2 separate regions of the Homo sapiens genome follow, and region 1 is linked to region 2. Evidence: fine-mapped expression QTL. Tissue or cell type: whole blood. Region 2 holds a variant in brackets; the other region holds the start of a gene. All regions are shown on one strand. Distances are from middle to middle.

What was found. PIP is the estimated chance that this variant, and not a neighbour inherited with it, causes the effect.
Region 1: MPZL1 starts here. The variant in region 2 is fine-mapped to the expression of MPZL1 in whole blood (TOPMed, PIP above 0.99). The same link has a PIP of 0.9 or more in blood mononuclear cells.

Annotation. Positions count from the first base shown.
Region 1 is chr1:167,717,133-167,725,315 of GRCh38, forward strand. MPZL1 (myelin protein zero like 1) reads left to right here and starts at 4,850. Exons shown (of 6, transcript NM_003953.6): 1 at 4,850-5,110. The coding sequence starts at 5,020. RefSeq lists enhancers at 2,452-2,951, 5,178-5,678 and silencers at 4,490-4,859, 5,250-5,319, 5,350-5,489.
Region 2 is chr1:167,766,148-167,774,330 of GRCh38, forward strand. It overlaps MPZL1 (myelin protein zero like 1), which reads left to right. Exons shown (of 6, transcript NM_003953.6): 3 at 6,128-6,341; 4 at 7,089-7,221. Among named protein-coding and RNA genes, the nearest start is that of MPZL1, 48 kb to the left of the region's middle. RefSeq lists enhancers at 3,853-4,424, 5,359-5,860. The variant A/G (reference allele first, on the strand shown) is at 4,321.

The sequences.
Region 1 (8,183 bases), 49 kb before region 2:
AAAAGGGGTCTTCACCGAACCTGGAGAGAGGGTTCTTGGATCTCGTGCAGGAAAGAATTCAGGGTGAAAGAAGCAAGTTTATTGGAAACTACTCTGTTACAGAGCAGGATGTTCTCAGAAAGTAGGAGGAGAAACACCCCGTTCTTAAGTTTTTCTTATATAGTGATCTTACCTATGTAAAAGCTAGGCTAAGCTGTGCCTACATACGGGTGAGCAGACAACATGACAAATTTTGTTACTCTGTTGATTTAAAGAAGACAATTATTGACATTTTAGTGTGTGAATACGTAAAAGCATAACTGTGATTATCTTAAAGGCATATATTGTTGTAGATATTAGGACATTTGGACTTCTTGCTGTTGTAGGAGTCAGTCCTAGTTATCTTCAGGCTGTTTCCTTAATTATAAACATCCCATGACTATGGGTCGTGGCAGGCAAGGAATGTGCCTTGTTAGTCCTAAAATGGAGCTGAACTTAAAATGGCATTATTCTAGCTTTCCTAGGCTGCTGCTTCCCTAACACGTTGACAAACACATTGACAAACAGTAATTGTGAATTGTCATTCTAGCAAATAACCAACCAGATAGGAAACAAGTAGACAGAGTGACTATCTTAAATAGACCTATTCATTAATTTTATTTCATATGTCATACATTCATCGGTTTATTCATTCATTCATTCATTGCTCATTCTTTTTTATTTTTTTCCGAGACGGAAGTCTTGCTCTGTCACCCAGGCTGGAGTGCAGTGGCGCAATCTCAGCTCACTGCAACCTCCGCCTCCCGGGTTCAAGCAATTTTCCCGCCTCAGCCTCCCAAGTAGCTGGATTACAAACGGTGGGCACCAAATGTATTTTTAGTAGAGATGGGGGTTTCGCCATGTTAGCCAGGCTGTTCTCGAACTCCCGACCTTGTGATCCGCCGGCCTTGGCCTCCCAAAGTGCTGGGATTACAGGCGTGAGCCACGGCGCCCAGCCTACTCATTCTTCAACAAACATTTAACAACAAGTACTATGTGACCGACTCCGAACTGTCCACTTTCTTCCTATGGTTTGACAACAGAAAATTATAGAAAATCTAGCGCTGTCTTTACCCTTGTTTTATTTAAAACTGCCCTAACTTGAGTCTTCAGTTCTTCTTAGGGCTCCAGGAAAGGAGGGAGGATAAGAATACCTTGTACAATGTTAATAAGTTCTAGATTGCCAGATAGTGTATTCATCAAAATCTAACTGGAAAAAAATATGCCCTGGACACCTAAGAAGTTTATACTGCTTTTCTCCTTAAAATGAGGAAGCTGTAGAATATAACTGGTTAGAGAAAATAATATAACCACTTCAGATATCTGAAAGCCTCAGTCTCAAGAAGTCTCCCTGCTCTCTCTCTTTTCCCTTTTGAATTTACTATAGCTATTATCATTTTAGATTTTTCCCCCCAACTTCTTCTATCTAATCATTAAAAAGGAACTTGTCTTTTACTCGGCAGGCCAAATACTTGAGTATCTCATTTGACTGTCATAACAATGATGCAGAAAGACTGACAATAACAAAACTCAGAATATTGATTGCTTCATTGACAGTGGGAAATATCCCTATTTGGTAGGAGGAATGCCTGCGCTATCTGTCCAGGCACATGCTTCCCTAGAATTAGGTCCTTGGGAAGCAGATGTAGTACACAGATGGTTGCAGGGCCCAGGAAAACAGTGTATCTTGAGGAAAATTTTATCCCAGCTACAGTGAATTTAGAAGTCTGACAGCACAGCCTTCTCCTGTAAGAATTAACACCTCCCTAAGGACCCTTTTACCCTCGTTCCCCCAATTTGGTGTCTCTGTGCCAAGGGGAAGGAGACACTAGAACTCTAATTTTCCAATTTTCAAAAATTTCTAGCAGCAATGCTTCTGGATTAAGACATTCTTTGTGAAACTGATTTGGCTTCAGGCGAATCTTTCTCAAGGTGGCCTGGGATTCCTCTTTGAATCTATCTGATTTGTTATCTGCGAGGAGTCAAATTCTCAGGGTTCCTGGGACACCACCCACATTCCAATTTTCCTCTGGCAACAGATCTTGAAGACAAAGACAGACAGGCTAGAAATTGGGACTCTTTTTCTCTTGATTATACTTCTCATCCAATTTATACCCAGTCCTGTAATTCTTTTCGTGAAATGTCTCTCAAATCCTGTCTTCTCATCCCCACTATCAATACCTTATTTCCTGCTCTCTTCATTCTTGCCCTGCTGCAGTGGTTACCTTTTTAAAACACAGATCCGAACTTCTTACACCCCTTTCACCACTCTCCACTGCCTCCAGAAAAAACACAACTCAAGGCTCTTCAAAATATGACCGCAGCCTCCTTTCCTGGCATTCTCTCTTCCCCTCTTTCCCTCACTCCCCTCAAGTTGCAAACCACAAAGGATTCACCTAATGTTTCTCACACTTGGTAGGTGATTTCTTTTCTCTGAATGTGCTTTTCCTGTTTTCTCCGTTCTCTGAGTTTGCTTTTCCTGTTTTCTCTCTGGTGAATTATTCATCTTTTAAAGTTCACCTTAAATGTTTTATCCTTGGTGAATCTTTCTAGATGCTTCTTGGGCCAGTGGATTTTAGGAGAGCGAGGTATATGTGGCTGAGGTACATCACAATCAGCAGAGAAGCTTTAAACACTGCTGAGAGTCACTGTCCCTGCTGGCCTTGGGTTTCTTCTTTATTCACTCTTCCTTTTTTTGAGACGGAGTCTCGCCCTGTCGCCCAGGCTGGAGTGCAATGGCGCGTGATCTCGTCTCACTGCAACCTCTGCCTCCCAGGTTCTGTAGCAGGATGAGCCGCAGACAAAACTCCTCAGACACGGAGTTAAAGAAGGAAGGGGTTTATTCGGCCGGAAGTATCGGCAAGCCTCCTGTCTCAAGAGCCTAGCTCCCCGAGTGAGCAATTCCTGTCCCTTTTAAGGGCTCACAACTCTAAGGGGGTCCGCGTGAGAGGGTCATGATCAATTGAGCAAGCAGAGGGTACTGTGAATGGGGGCTGCATGCACCGGTAATCAGAACGAAACAGAACAGGACAGGGATTTTTACAATGCCTTTCCATATAATGTCTGGAATCCATAGATAACATAACCGGTTAGGTCAGGGGTCGATCTTTAACTACCGGGCTTAGGTCAGGCAGGCCCAGGCCTGGTTTCGGGTCTGGTTCTTAGGCGCCGGGTTACCTGCCTTTAATTTCGCTTCTCTTTCCTTTTCTGAGTATAAAACTATATGAGAGGTTCTGTCTCTCTTCTCTCAGTTCAAGCGATTCTCCTGCCTCAGCCACCCGAGTAGCTGGGTACAGTCACGCGCCACCCATGCCCGGCTAATTTTTTTGTATCTTTTAGTAGAGATGGGGTTTCACTACGCTGGCCAGGCTGGTCTCAAACTCCTGACCTCGTGATCTGCCCGCCTCGGCCTCCCGAAGTGCTGGGATTACAAGTGTGAGCCACCGCACCCGGCCCTCATTTTTACAAATGTAATTGAGTACTTGTTTGTGTACACTAGTAGACGATGTGCTTCTTGAGAGTAAAGCCCAGGTGTTCTACATCCATGGTTCAATTAATGCATTGGTATCTTTTCCAACCTATGGCATTTGAGATACAACTTCAAAAGGATCTGCTGACAGAAATAGGGCAAAGTGGTTCTGGTATTTTTTTTTTTTAAGTTTTTTTCTCACTAATGTTCTTATGATTTCGCTGTACTGCAATGTTAGCTGAAACAGCACAGATATCAGGAATGGCATTGTTAAGACTGACCTTAGACAAAAACCCTGAAGTGAGAGGTTACATTTTGGGTTCTCACCATACTCTTCCCCCGCTCTTGTCCTAATTGTCTAAAGCTTGCTTCCCTTCCTCATCGTATCAGCCTCCCACCTGAATCTTCCCTTTTCCTCCTTCACACTCATCTTTCTTGTGCCCCTGTCCCCCATTTTTCCCTTTTGTAAGCCATTTTCATAAGGATCCTTCCAAATATTTCCCCTATTGATTGGACAACCCGTAGGTGGCAGACTGTTCTGGGCCAAGGCAACCAAGTTGAGCAGGGCCAGCAATCAGTGTCGGGAACTTCTGCAGGGCACTTCAGAATCAGTGTTGGGAACTTCTGCTTTCTATTTTTCACGGACACAGACAGGAACACAGATATGCGAAAGCAAAACAATCAAAAAGCATTTTCATTTGTTTTTCAGGTAGTAGGAAAGAGTTCCAGATTCCCATCCTTCTGAAGCCAGGAGGGAGGTTCCTAAGAGGAGGTTAGGGCAAGATGGAGACTTCTTTTTAAACTAGTAGATTTCGCAAATTGCAACACATACATTATCTAGTCCACGCAAAGGACAGGCCTTGGGGACACGGCACGGGGAACGTGTTCCACCTGGACGACTGAATCAGAAGTCTCTCCCCCATCAATTGAACGCCTCATTATTTTTCTTTCTGTCTTTTCTTTCTTTTTAAGGTAAATGAATTGCTTCTTTTTCGTTAGGTGAGGCCGGCAGAGAACAAGAAGAGCTGAAACGGAGGCGAGGTTAGTACCCAGCAAAGACCTGTGGCGAGGAGAGACAATGAAGAGGACCACGGGACTGGACCCTGAGAAAGGCAGAGGAGACGCTGGCTGGTGGGGCCCGCAGGCGGACAGCCACGCAGGCAGGCGGAAGGCTCGGCTCGGCCTGGGACCGCTGCAGACCCGGCCTCCGCGCGGGGCCGAGGCGCCTGGGTGGGACCGAGGAGGCGGGGCCTTCCCGGCGGACGGATGATGGACAGCCTGACTCTCCAATCGCGTCCTTAAAAGGGTGCGGGCAGGCCAATGAGCGGACAGCGAGGGCCGGAGTGGGGCTGAGGCTTCGGTGCAGAGCTGGAGAGCCGCGGCTGGGACCGGAGTGGGGAGCGCGGCGTGGAGGTGCCACCCGGCGCGGGTGGCGGAGAGATCAGAAGCCTCTTCCCCAAGCCGAGCCAACCTCAGCGGGGACCCGGGCTCAGGGACGCGGCGGCGGCGGCGGCGACTGCAGTGGCTGGACGATGGCAGCGTCCGCCGGAGCCGGGGCGGTGATTGCAGCCCCAGACAGCCGGCGCTGGCTGTGGTCGGTGCTGGCGGCGGCGCTTGGGCTCTGTAAGTGATGCCAGGACCAGGGCTGGGGCCGGGGAGTGGGGCCCCCGGGCCCGACACACGCCCATCGCGGCGGTCGCAGGCCAGGCGCGCGCACTGAGAGCCGAGGTGGGGAGGGGGCGCGGCCTGCGCTCTCTGGGGCCGAGGGGACCCAGCCCATGGGGAACGCGGGCCTCCGCGACTGGCCGGGAAGGCGCAGAGCCTCTTTCTTCTCTTTCCTGGATCCTGGAGTGCGGAGGAGGAGGGGAGAGTGCTTTACCTTGCTCCTTCCCGGGGGGCGGTCCAGGGGAGCGGACCCGGCGGGCGGCTGCGGTGAGCCCTCGCGGCGCACCCTGCCCTCTCCTCGTGGTGACTCTGGATCGTCTAGGCCCTCCCGGATTCTGACTCAGGAACTAGGGTTCTGGCGTTCTTCACCTTTGGGAGGTGGCGGAAAGTTGCAGGTTTTTCATTTGTAGGGCCTTTGTTGATTTGTTTCCTGTTAAGCCAGGGTTTTGTTGTAAGTTCCCTTTCCCATGCTCTCATTCAGTTTTAAGTCTCCGTAATAAAAGAGTCTCATTTCCGTGGTCTGCAAAACGCCAATAAAAAAATATTGTTACTTCTAGGTTAGAATGCAAAGAGCTTGGAATACCAGTGAGATGGCCTGGCTTAAAAGAATTTGGTCAAATCCATCATAATTCCAGACGTAGCCACCATAATTTGACAAGACATAGAGCATTAAAAAGCATAATTTTCCTAAAGGAAAAAAAAAGCTCCTTTTTCTTACCAAATATTGTGACTCAAGCTTAAGGTAAACCTCGGGCTCAATTTATGGGAATTGGATGACTTGTTTTATGGACATCTGAAGTGGTATCTGCCACAGGACTTTTCTGTGTTGTTGTTCAAAGCAAAGTACTTGTTGCTGTCTCCGAATTTAGTTAAATAATAGTTATAAAGAGGGCCAGCTGCTAAGAAACCACGTAGATTTTTTTCATTCCCTTTGTTTTCAAAATGTCAGTTATGATTTAGCATCACAGTATCTGAATACCAGAGTTTACTCAGTAATTTCTTTCTTCATGGAAAAGTTCTTAATATAATCCTTGGATCAGGGAAACTAGGTGAAGTTCTGTTGGATCACCAACTGTTCCACTTAAACAGTGATTCCAGGGGCTGTAAAGCATAAATGTAAAAGTCTCCCTACCCTCCAGGGGTTGACAGATGATGACACACTTTGTGTAAGACACAATCCATTCTGTATTTTGTCTTAGAAAAAAAGGTTAAAAGTGTGTTTGTTGGTGGTGGTATTTGTGTTTAATCAAACAAGTAGAAAATAGCCTAAAATTAAGGTTTATCAGAAATATGCTTCAGACAGAATTGTTATGCATGAGAGGTCAGACATTGCTATGGAGGACAAAGCAGTTAGGGTGATCTTAATTAAAATCAGGGTATTAAACGTAGAAGGAGTGCAAAACTACATAGTAGTGAAAAGATCACTAGAGTAATAGCCCCATACAACTTGGACGTAACTCTTCAGTAATGAAGATGAATGTTGATATGTAAAAATCAGCAGCTGATGTTATTGGTTCAACTTAGAAAATTATTGAATCTAAAATTCTTGCCAAATCACCTCTTTTCTGGTCATGGATACTGCACATAAGAGTTTATCTTTTACAGGATAGCTTCTAAAGTTTTATCAAGACAGTTACTCAGCAAACATTCACTGAGCACCTTTTAAGTGCTTAACACTTAAAAGGTGGGAGGTTAGGTCTCACTGTGTTGCCCAGGCTGCTCTGGAACTGAAACTCCTGGGCTCCAGTGATTCCTCTGCCTTTTCCTCGCAAGCAGCTGGGGCTACAGGTGTGTGCCACTGTGTAGGGTCAGAAGCACATTGGTAAAGATGTACTGTGGGAGCTTGAAGGAGGGTCATTATCTCAGACTGTAGTTCAGGCTACTGGAGGAAGGGAGTTTAAACTGGGTAGGCATGGGGGAGGGGCAGAAGTACATACAGAGTTATGAATGAACCTGTTGGTAGTTCAGTATAGTGGGAGGTTGGAGTGTATATAAGGGGAATGGTGGGAGTTGAGGCAGGAGAGCCTGCCAAGGGCACCAGCTTACAAAGGGCCTTGTCTGCCACACTTAATCCAATGAGGATTTCTCTGTCTATTGAGATGTGAAGGATGGGTTAGAGTGGGGTGAGGCTGAAGCCAGAGAAGGCAGAGGACTATTGTAATAATCCCGGGGAGGATGATGAAGATCTGAATTCAAGCATTGGGCTATGAAGAGAGGACACATGTTGATGCGCCACTTAGAAAGTACGTTTGATAGAGCTTGGAAACATTGATGCAGGCTTGAAAGAGGAGGTGGATAAAATGATCATAGGTTTTGGGCTTGGGAAGCTGGGCATATTTTTGGCCTTTTCACAGATGGGGAAATAGGAGTCTTGGGGGAAGAAGATGATGGAGATACTTTTGAATATGTTGAGTTTGAGATGCGGGTAAGACATCCAAATGGAGATGGGCAGAAAACAATTGGATAGACAGTTCTGGAGGTGAGGAGAAAGTTCTGGTTGGAAATGGAGATTTAGAGAGTTATGTGGCTAATAGTTAAAGCTTGGATTGTTTGGATGAGGGCATCCAGGGAAAATGCACTGAAGAACATAGCAGAGAGCCAAAGACGGAGTTTTGGGGTATATGAAACCTGACAAAGAGTCTCTGTGAGTAAGAGAAAAACCAGGTGAGTTTGGTATTTCAGCATTGTCAGATGAAGAGAGATAAAATGTGATAAGAATTCACTGAATTTGGTAATTGAAATGAGCACATAGTATATGAGGACTAAATCTCAGTAATTTGTACCATCCATGTCAGTAAATGGAACCTCCATACATCTAATTGTGCAGGCCAGAAACCTAGGGTCCATCCCTGATTCTTCCCTGTCCTTCACATCCAATCAGTTCTCCCATCTTTAAAATGCATCTGGAATTGATGTTTTTTCTACCTCCACTCCTAGCCTTTTAGTCAAAGTCACCACCATTTCTTGCCTATATTACTGTGATAGCCTCCCAGCTGCTCTTCCTCTTTTTCCCCCTCTGGAGTCTTGCTCT
Region 2 (8,183 bases):
CATCTGATTTAGCAATATTGATTTGGGAGCTTACTATGTAGTGGGTTATGTAGGGCCTTCAAAAATGTCTAAAACAGAATCCTTGCTCTCACCTAGAGATGATTAGGAGGAAGGCTGATATATAGATGACTTTGGAGTAAGATAAAGGATGTAACAGAAATACAGCACCAGAGCATTGAAAAAAGGTTATTTAGTAACTAGTGGAGTGCTGGTTATTAAACATGAACTGACTATCTTGGTTCTGGTCTGTAAAATGGAGACGATAAAACCTCCCACACAAGGGTGTTAGGAGGATAAAGTAAGATTATTCAAGATAAGTGCTCAGGAGAGTGTCTAGCTCTTGAGTTACTAAAATACACCATTTGTTGTTACTGTTGCTCTCCCAGCATGTGGAATGCCCTTCATATATTGGCACATATTTTAGTACTGTTGCATGTTTCAGGTTGTCAGTGTTTAGCAAGGACAGTCTGTCATCTATCTTTAAGAATGCCCAATTCTTCTTCTGAATGGTGAGTTACATTGTTGATCACCACCTAGATGTTGGGCCCATCATATGCCTATGCCATTTAATCTTCACAGCTCTATGAGGAAGACAGGGTGGGGAGGATGGGAGACACTGACTCAAGAGTTATTCACCTGTGGCCATACCACACAGGTTAGAATTGTTTAAACTTCAATACGGTATGATTTCCCTTATGTATTATTTCTCTCTCAGGTAGAAAAATCTGCTAATAATATTTACGGCCTCATAGGTTTTAGGGATTACCTAAGGCAGTGCTTCTCAGTATTTTTTAAAATTTATTTTTAAAAGGAGCCTTTTCACATTTTTCTTAATCTCTGCCCCCTTCCATGAAATTTTAATATTGTAGATATCCTCTGCAACTGTTTTACATATAAAAGAGAAAGATTTTCTCAAAGCTTCCCACCCAAGAGCCAGTGTTTGCTCCCTTGGGGGAGAATCTCCCCTATGGAGAATGCATAGTCTAGAGGTCTTTATAAGAGAGGCCTTCCCTTACAGTAGCCATAAGGGTGAGCACAGGAATCCATACAGATACCATGGAAAGACATAAAGAGGCATTCTCTGCTTCACGTAAATATGGCATCAGCATAGAACATACACTAATGTTCCCATAGAGGCAAGATTAAACACATAAGTTTACTCAAGAGAGTCCAAAGAACTATTTAAACATTTAAAGATTTCCCACTGAAGTCTTCTGCAAGAGTGGGTGTGAGAGCCACCCAGAGGTAATAACTTTCTTTTAAAGAGCGGTTCCATTTATGCTGGAAACAGTCTTGTCGTGTAGGTCCATGAAGGTTTACATAACTCAAAACTTAATATTAAGAACATGCTGTAATTCTGATTAATATTTTTAGCTAATCAATTTATACTTACACACGAGTCTGATTGCAGTTAATCCCAGCATGTTCAGTTATTGACATAGGATCCTTTAATTCCAAAATGTCGGGACACATTTAATAAGATGAGTGGGTTGCTTTTTTGTTTTTATAGGTTTTACAGGAAAAGTATATTCAAACCCAGTATATTCAAAAGCCATACTGTGGATGGCTTTTTTGGCCCATGGCCTTGGGATCCACATGTCTGAAACTGAACTCATTTTTTCTCCCTTCTGTTTCCCTTTTCTGCTTTTTTTTTTTTTTTTTTTTTTTAGGTTAATTGTGTTCATCTGCAGATGAGTTTTGTAATCATTTTGTTTTGTTTTGTTTTGTTTTGTTTTGTTTTGTTTTGTGTTTTCTGTCCTTTCCTTCCCTGTCCCTTACCACTTCCCTTCTGCCCCCAAGAAATAAGAACCTTTGCTGGTTCTTCCTACTTTGTTTCTGGTGTCTAGCTTTTTGTCAGCCTTCCTGTGTCTCTGCTGTCTATTGAGCAATGTTAACTGTGTGCCTGGTCTTGTGCAGTAGCCCCTTGTTATTCTTCTGCTTCTGTTTTTCTCATCTTTCAATCCAACCCTCATATGCCAGCAGGTGCATAGTCTTAGAACAGCTCTTTCACCTTGCCACTGCAGGTTATCAGGAACCTAGATTCCCATTGTGGACAACATTTGTCTAGAATTAAAAGCTCATTACAATTTGGCCCAGCCTACCACTTTAGCCTCACTTCTGTTCTCTTATGGCATCACTTCCAGTTTAGTAAAAATGCTTTGTGCTTTGTTTTCCTACTTCTGAACACTTGTCATTTAAGCTGTACCCCATTTTTACCCTCTGTCTCCTCCATAATGCCTCTTTTTTTTTTTTTAACCTTTTAGCCCTTAAAACTCACTACCCTTATCTGGGCCATTCCTATAATACAGATCCCTTAATATGACAGTTTTCCTCTTCTTCCTGAATATGGGTGTTTTAAGAGGACTTGCCTGTCTTACATCTTTAGTATACCTCATAGCTTTAGCACCATGGCTTGTACTTTAAAAATATTGATTGATAATGATTCTAGTCTTTTCTGTGAATTTTTCACTGTTTTATTTCCATCTCTCACTGGTTTGACCAAGACGTTATTCCTCAGTTTGATTCAGCAAACTATGTAGTTCCTGCTGTGTCCAAAGTGCTAAGGAGTACAGAGATAAATACATCTTATCCTCTGCCTTCAAATGGCCCCCATTCAATGAGGGAGCCTGACTGAGGGAGCTGTCTCAGACCCAGTGCTGAGAAACAGCATCATGTAGCTCATCCCCGCTGGTTCAGAAATGCAAGGCAGGGAATATGTGGAGATGTTGTGGGAAGGGAAGGCAGAGAGCAGGTGATGGAAGGATTCATTTGCAAAGCTGAGAGTTTATGGTTCATTTTCTAGTGAAGAAGAGAGAGTGAAGAACTTTGAACAGATAAGACATGATCTCACCTGAGAGGCCTTAAACATTGGAAATAGCATAAGCTTTGAAATCAGAGCTGAGTTTGAATTCCATCTCTAAAACCTGTGACTTTGGGAAAGTCACCAAGGTTTCCTGAGCCTCACATTCCCTATTTATGAAATATCAGGTAGGCGAATCTCACCTTGCAGGGTGGTTGTGAGGGCTAGAGAGTTGTTGGGAGACAGTTTTCTATGGGTCTTTCACGTTTTTGCACACCTTGCTAGCAAAGGCACTGGCTGCCTTTGTTCTGGACTTTTTTTATACAGTAACTAGCTTTGGAAGGCAGAGATGATGTTACCCTCTGGAGCAAAGGACAAATTTGTGTATTCTTGAGTATAGTAAAGGTAGTGTCTCCTTTCAGGGCTGAAGTCAGACATGTCTTCTGCCCCTTGTAAGAGAATAGTGTTCCCTGAGCTTGGGGTTCCTCGGCTGTGATGCAACGCCTCTGCCTGCACAACATCCATGTGAGCCCCTCCATGTCATGGCTATGGGACTTGCGGGGCAAGAGAAACAAACACATGCTTTCTGCTCATAAGGTTCTTTGTTTCTGAGTCTTCTTCATGGGAGTGAAGATTTCACAGGAGTCCGTGTCTTCTGTCAGCACCTATGAACCTGTGGCCAACTAACTTTGTTAGCTTGTAAGTAGGGTAAAATCTCAGACCCTTCACGGTTCTTAACAAGCATTTAGGTCATATGAAATGCAGGGTAAATATTTGATAAATGTTATAATAATAACCATTATTCTTTATCAGTGATCATTTAGGCATTGTGGAAGATGATGAGTTAGACATACCAGTTAAGAGGCCATAGTCCAAGATGATGAAAACATAAAAACAGATATTGTCAGTGGGAACCGAATAGAGAGAAGAGAGAACTGAGAGAAACTAATGAGACATTGACAATATTGGGGGATTAACTGGATAGGAAGAAAGAGAATCAAGGATGACTTCAAGATTTATGGTTTTGGAAAGAAACAGTAGCCATCAGTGAAGACACGATACATGAAGAGGGGAAGATGAAGTTTGTAAGAGAGGGTGACAAGCTTGGGGGAGAGGGGCAGCCAGGTGGTAAAGTGAGTAGGCAAGGAGTCTAGAGCTTAGGGGACGCTATTGATGGAGAGAGAGGTTTGGGAGTTAAGAAAATCTAGATGATCATTAAATCATAGGAATGGATGAGTCTGCACTGGGGTTTTCACCGTGCTCAAAGGGTTCTGAAAATGTTCTGTTTGAATTGCTAATAGAGCTGGTTTCTATCCCCAGCTCCACCATCACCCCGTCCATTAACCAGAACAAAGACATCAGGCCTCCAGCATAGCTGCTTGGATTAGAGCCAAGTGTGAGGATAGATCCCCTCCCACTGGGCCTTAACCCTGCTTCCAGGTGCTGAGTTTGACAAGGTTTACTTTGAGAAGACAGTTCCTTTGCTGAAAGCAGGACTGAGGAGAGACTGAGGAGTGGAA[A/G]GAGAAAGGGGCTAAAGGCTGAACTTTCAAAAGCCGGCAAGAGTATCTTGTGTTATCTGGGCTTTGTTCCTTTCACACACCCATGACTTTTCCATAGGAAACCAGAAGGAAGAGGGCGAAACTCAGATTAGCTGATCTGAGATATTTAGGATTCTTCTCCTTTGTGCTTCTGTGTATCTTAGTGGTAAGCTAACTCAACACTAAGCTTTCTGAAGCCTTGGGAATCACTGGGCTCAATCATGGTGTTACTGGAAGAACATTGGCTTTGAAGACTCAGATGGGCCTAAATTTTACTCTGGGTCCCCAATTTACTATCATTGGTACCTTGGGAAAATGGCTTCTCTTAAGTCTCCATTTTGTCTTTTATAAAATTATGGGTGGTAATAATTATATCAATGAAATATTGAGAGGATTAGAGGTGATATATGAGTCTGATTCTTCCATTGAAACCTGGCAGGGTTGAGTGCCGTGATCTCTAAACTTCTGTCTGGCTTAGATTCCATAACTTGTGATTTGTAATATGATGTTGCATTTCTTTTTTTTTTTTTTTTTAATTGATCATTCTTGGGTGTTTCTCGGAGAGGGGGATGTGGCAGGGTCATAGGATAATAGTGGAGAGAAGGTCAACACGTGAACAAAGGTCTCTGGTTTTCCTAGGCAGAGGTCCCTGCGGCCTTCCGCAGTGTTTGTGTCCCTGGGTACTTGAGATTAGGGAGTGGTGATGACTCTTAACGAGTATGCTGCCTTCAAGCATCTGTTTAACAAAGCACATCTTGCACCGCCCTTAATCCATTTCACCCTGAGTTGACACAGCACATGTTTCAGAGAGCATGGGGTTGGGGGTAAGGTTTATAGATTAACAGCATCCCAAGGCAGAAGAATTTTTCTTAGTACAGAACAAAATGGAGTCTCCTATGTCTACTTCTTTCTACACAGACACAGTAACAATCTGATCTCTCTTTCTTTTCCCCACATTTCCCCCTTTTCTTTTTGACAAAACCGCCATCGTCATCATGGCCCGTTCTCAATGGTCGCTGTCTCTTCGGAGCTGTTGGGTACACGTGCAGAAAGGCTGTCACTTCACACTTGGAAGATTGCACAGCGGCCAGGCAGAGGCGCTCCTCACTTCCCAGACGGGGTGGTGGCCGGGCAGAGGCGCTCCTCACTTCCCAGACAGGGTGGCCGGGCAGAGGGGCTCCTCACATCCCAGAGGATGGGCGGCCAGGCAGAGACGCTCCTCACTTCCTAGATGGGGTGGCAGCTGGGCAGAGGCTGTAATCTTAGTACTTTGGGAGACCAAGGCAGGTGGCTGGGAGGTGGAGGTTGCAGCGAGCCGAGATCACACCACTGCACTCCAGCCTGGGCAGCATTGAGCATTGAGTGAGCAAGACTCCATCTGCAAACCCAGCACCTTGGGAGGCTGAGGCAGGCAGAACACTCCAGGTCAGGAGCTGGAGGCCAGCCCGGTCAACACGGCAAAACCCCTCTCCACCAAAAATACAAAAACCAGTCAGGCGTGGCCGCACGTGCCTGCAATCCCAGGCAGTCGGCAGCCCGAGGCAGGAGAATCACAGGAGCCCGAGGCAGGGAGGTTGCAGCGAGCCAAGATCACGGCAGTACAGTCCAGCCTCAGCAACAGAGGGAGACCGAAAAAAGGAGGAGAGAGAGGGGGAGAGGGAGAGGGAGAGAGATGTTGCATTTCTTTCCGTATGAAGTCTTTAAAAGAACCTTTCATAGCATGCACATTACAGAGTTTAGGAATTCTGCCTTTGAGAATAGTTCATGTGTTCCTTTTTTCTAATTGCAGTTTTTCCACTACTCCCAAGGGCAAGTGTACCTTGGGAATTATCCACCATTTAAAGACAGAATCAGCTGGGCTGGAGACCTTGACAAGAAAGATGCATCAATCAACATAGAAAATATGCAGTTTATACACAATGGCACCTATATCTGTGATGTCAAAAACCCTCCTGACATCGTTGTCCAGCCTGGACACATTAGGCTCTATGTCGTAGAAAAAGGTACTTCCTTGAGTATTTTGGCAGTAATAATGCAGTCTCCTTTATCTCATGTTTGGTTGGAAAACATGAGTTGCATTTCATGGTGGGTTTGGAGGGAGGATTTTTGCCATACAGTTGTGCTCCCTGTTGCCACGAACCTGTGGCTCTACCAAACACACTTGGAGCTGGGAAACTTGTTGCTCATTCTGACCCAGAGTGGCTGATTTCTCCATTTTTATTCCTACCGTCTGGTGCCTATTGGTCTAATTTCAGGAGTATGAATTTTTCAGTGTTAATTAGAAGAAAGACCAAATTCATTATGTTTGGATGTGATGGGCAGTGGGAAAGAAGGAGATTCATACTGTTTTATATTCTCCAGGAGAAAGCTTTCAACAACAGCACAGTTATTTCTTCCTTTTGATTTTGAGAACAAACAGGAAATGCAGGTTCTGGTGTCTCATTTTTGAGACAAAGTCTGTTTTGTTGGAGAGTAGATCCAGGTAAATTCACACCTCCGGTTTTTCTTTAGAGCACTGAGAGGGATTGTAGGTGTAGAAATGCTTAGTTCCATAGTTCATTCTTTCTCATCTAATATTCACATGTCATGAATTACATAGTAATAGGATAGATAGTAGGATCTCATAGTTTGGATAATAAAAGAGGGTACGGTAACTGCTAAATGAAGATACTTGCTCGTTAATTTAATAAAATTCCATGTTTTCTCTCTGTAGCAATGTACCTTAAAACTATTTTGTTCTTTCTCTCTAGAGAATTTGCCTGTGTTTCCAGTTTGGGTAGTGGTGGGCATAGTTACTGCTGTGGTCCTAGGTCTCACTCTGCTCATCAGCATGATTCTGGCTGTCCTCTATAGAAGGAAAAACTCTAAACGGGATTACACTGGGTAAGAAACACTGTTTTTTTAGGGCAGGGGTGGAGGGAGGGAATCAGGGTTTATAGAAACTTCTGTATTTAATGAAAAAAGGATTTTAAAGAATTAACTACTATTTTCTTTCATGTCAGAATCAGGCAGTCTCCTTAGGAGGTGTTCTAACATGGGCAAGTGGAAATCAGTGGGCCTGCTATTAAATGTGGAATATGATTCTAATCTCTGTTCCAGTTTCCTTCTTAGGTTTGGTGAGATGAGCTGCTCAGCAGTCTGTGCTCTGTGTTTCAATACCATCCACTATGCAATTAGTATTCTTAAGACATCACTTACCCAATTTAAGAGTTTAATTTCAATTTCTTGCTAATAAACTCACAAGGTGGTTCTTTCCAGTTAGGAAATATAAAACCCTAATTAAGAAGTTGTGAGCTGGAATTAGTGGCATGTGCCTGTAAGTCCCAGCTACTTAGGCTGTGGCAGGAGGATTGCTTGAGCCGAGGCGTTTGAATCTAGCCTAGGCAACATAGCAAGATCCTGTCTCTTTAAAAAAAAAAAAAAAGAAAGAAAGAAAGAAGAAGAAAAAGCAGTGGTTTTAATAAACTACCTCCCCCAGCCCAGTGTGATGATGGTGCAGGGCTTTTCCTTTTTGTAGTTCCCCTACCCCACTCCAAGCTTAAGTAGCTTTATTGCTTTGATCATTCTTAGCTAGATTCACCCAAAATGGGATAATAAGAATTGATGACAAAATATATCAGCAATAAAGAAAAATAGACTTTCTTTTTGTTTATGGCTTCTCAGATGGAACACGTTTAAGCATAGGGTGTGTATCTAATTAAAGGACCTTCTCTTTTCCCCACTCCAGCTGGAAAGCTAACCCATATAAGCTATGTAGAACTCATGTGGTAAGACTGGGAGCAGAGGCTGGATTCAAGTTGATATAGCATGAGCAGTGTTGCAGATGCACAGATCTAACTTTAGCC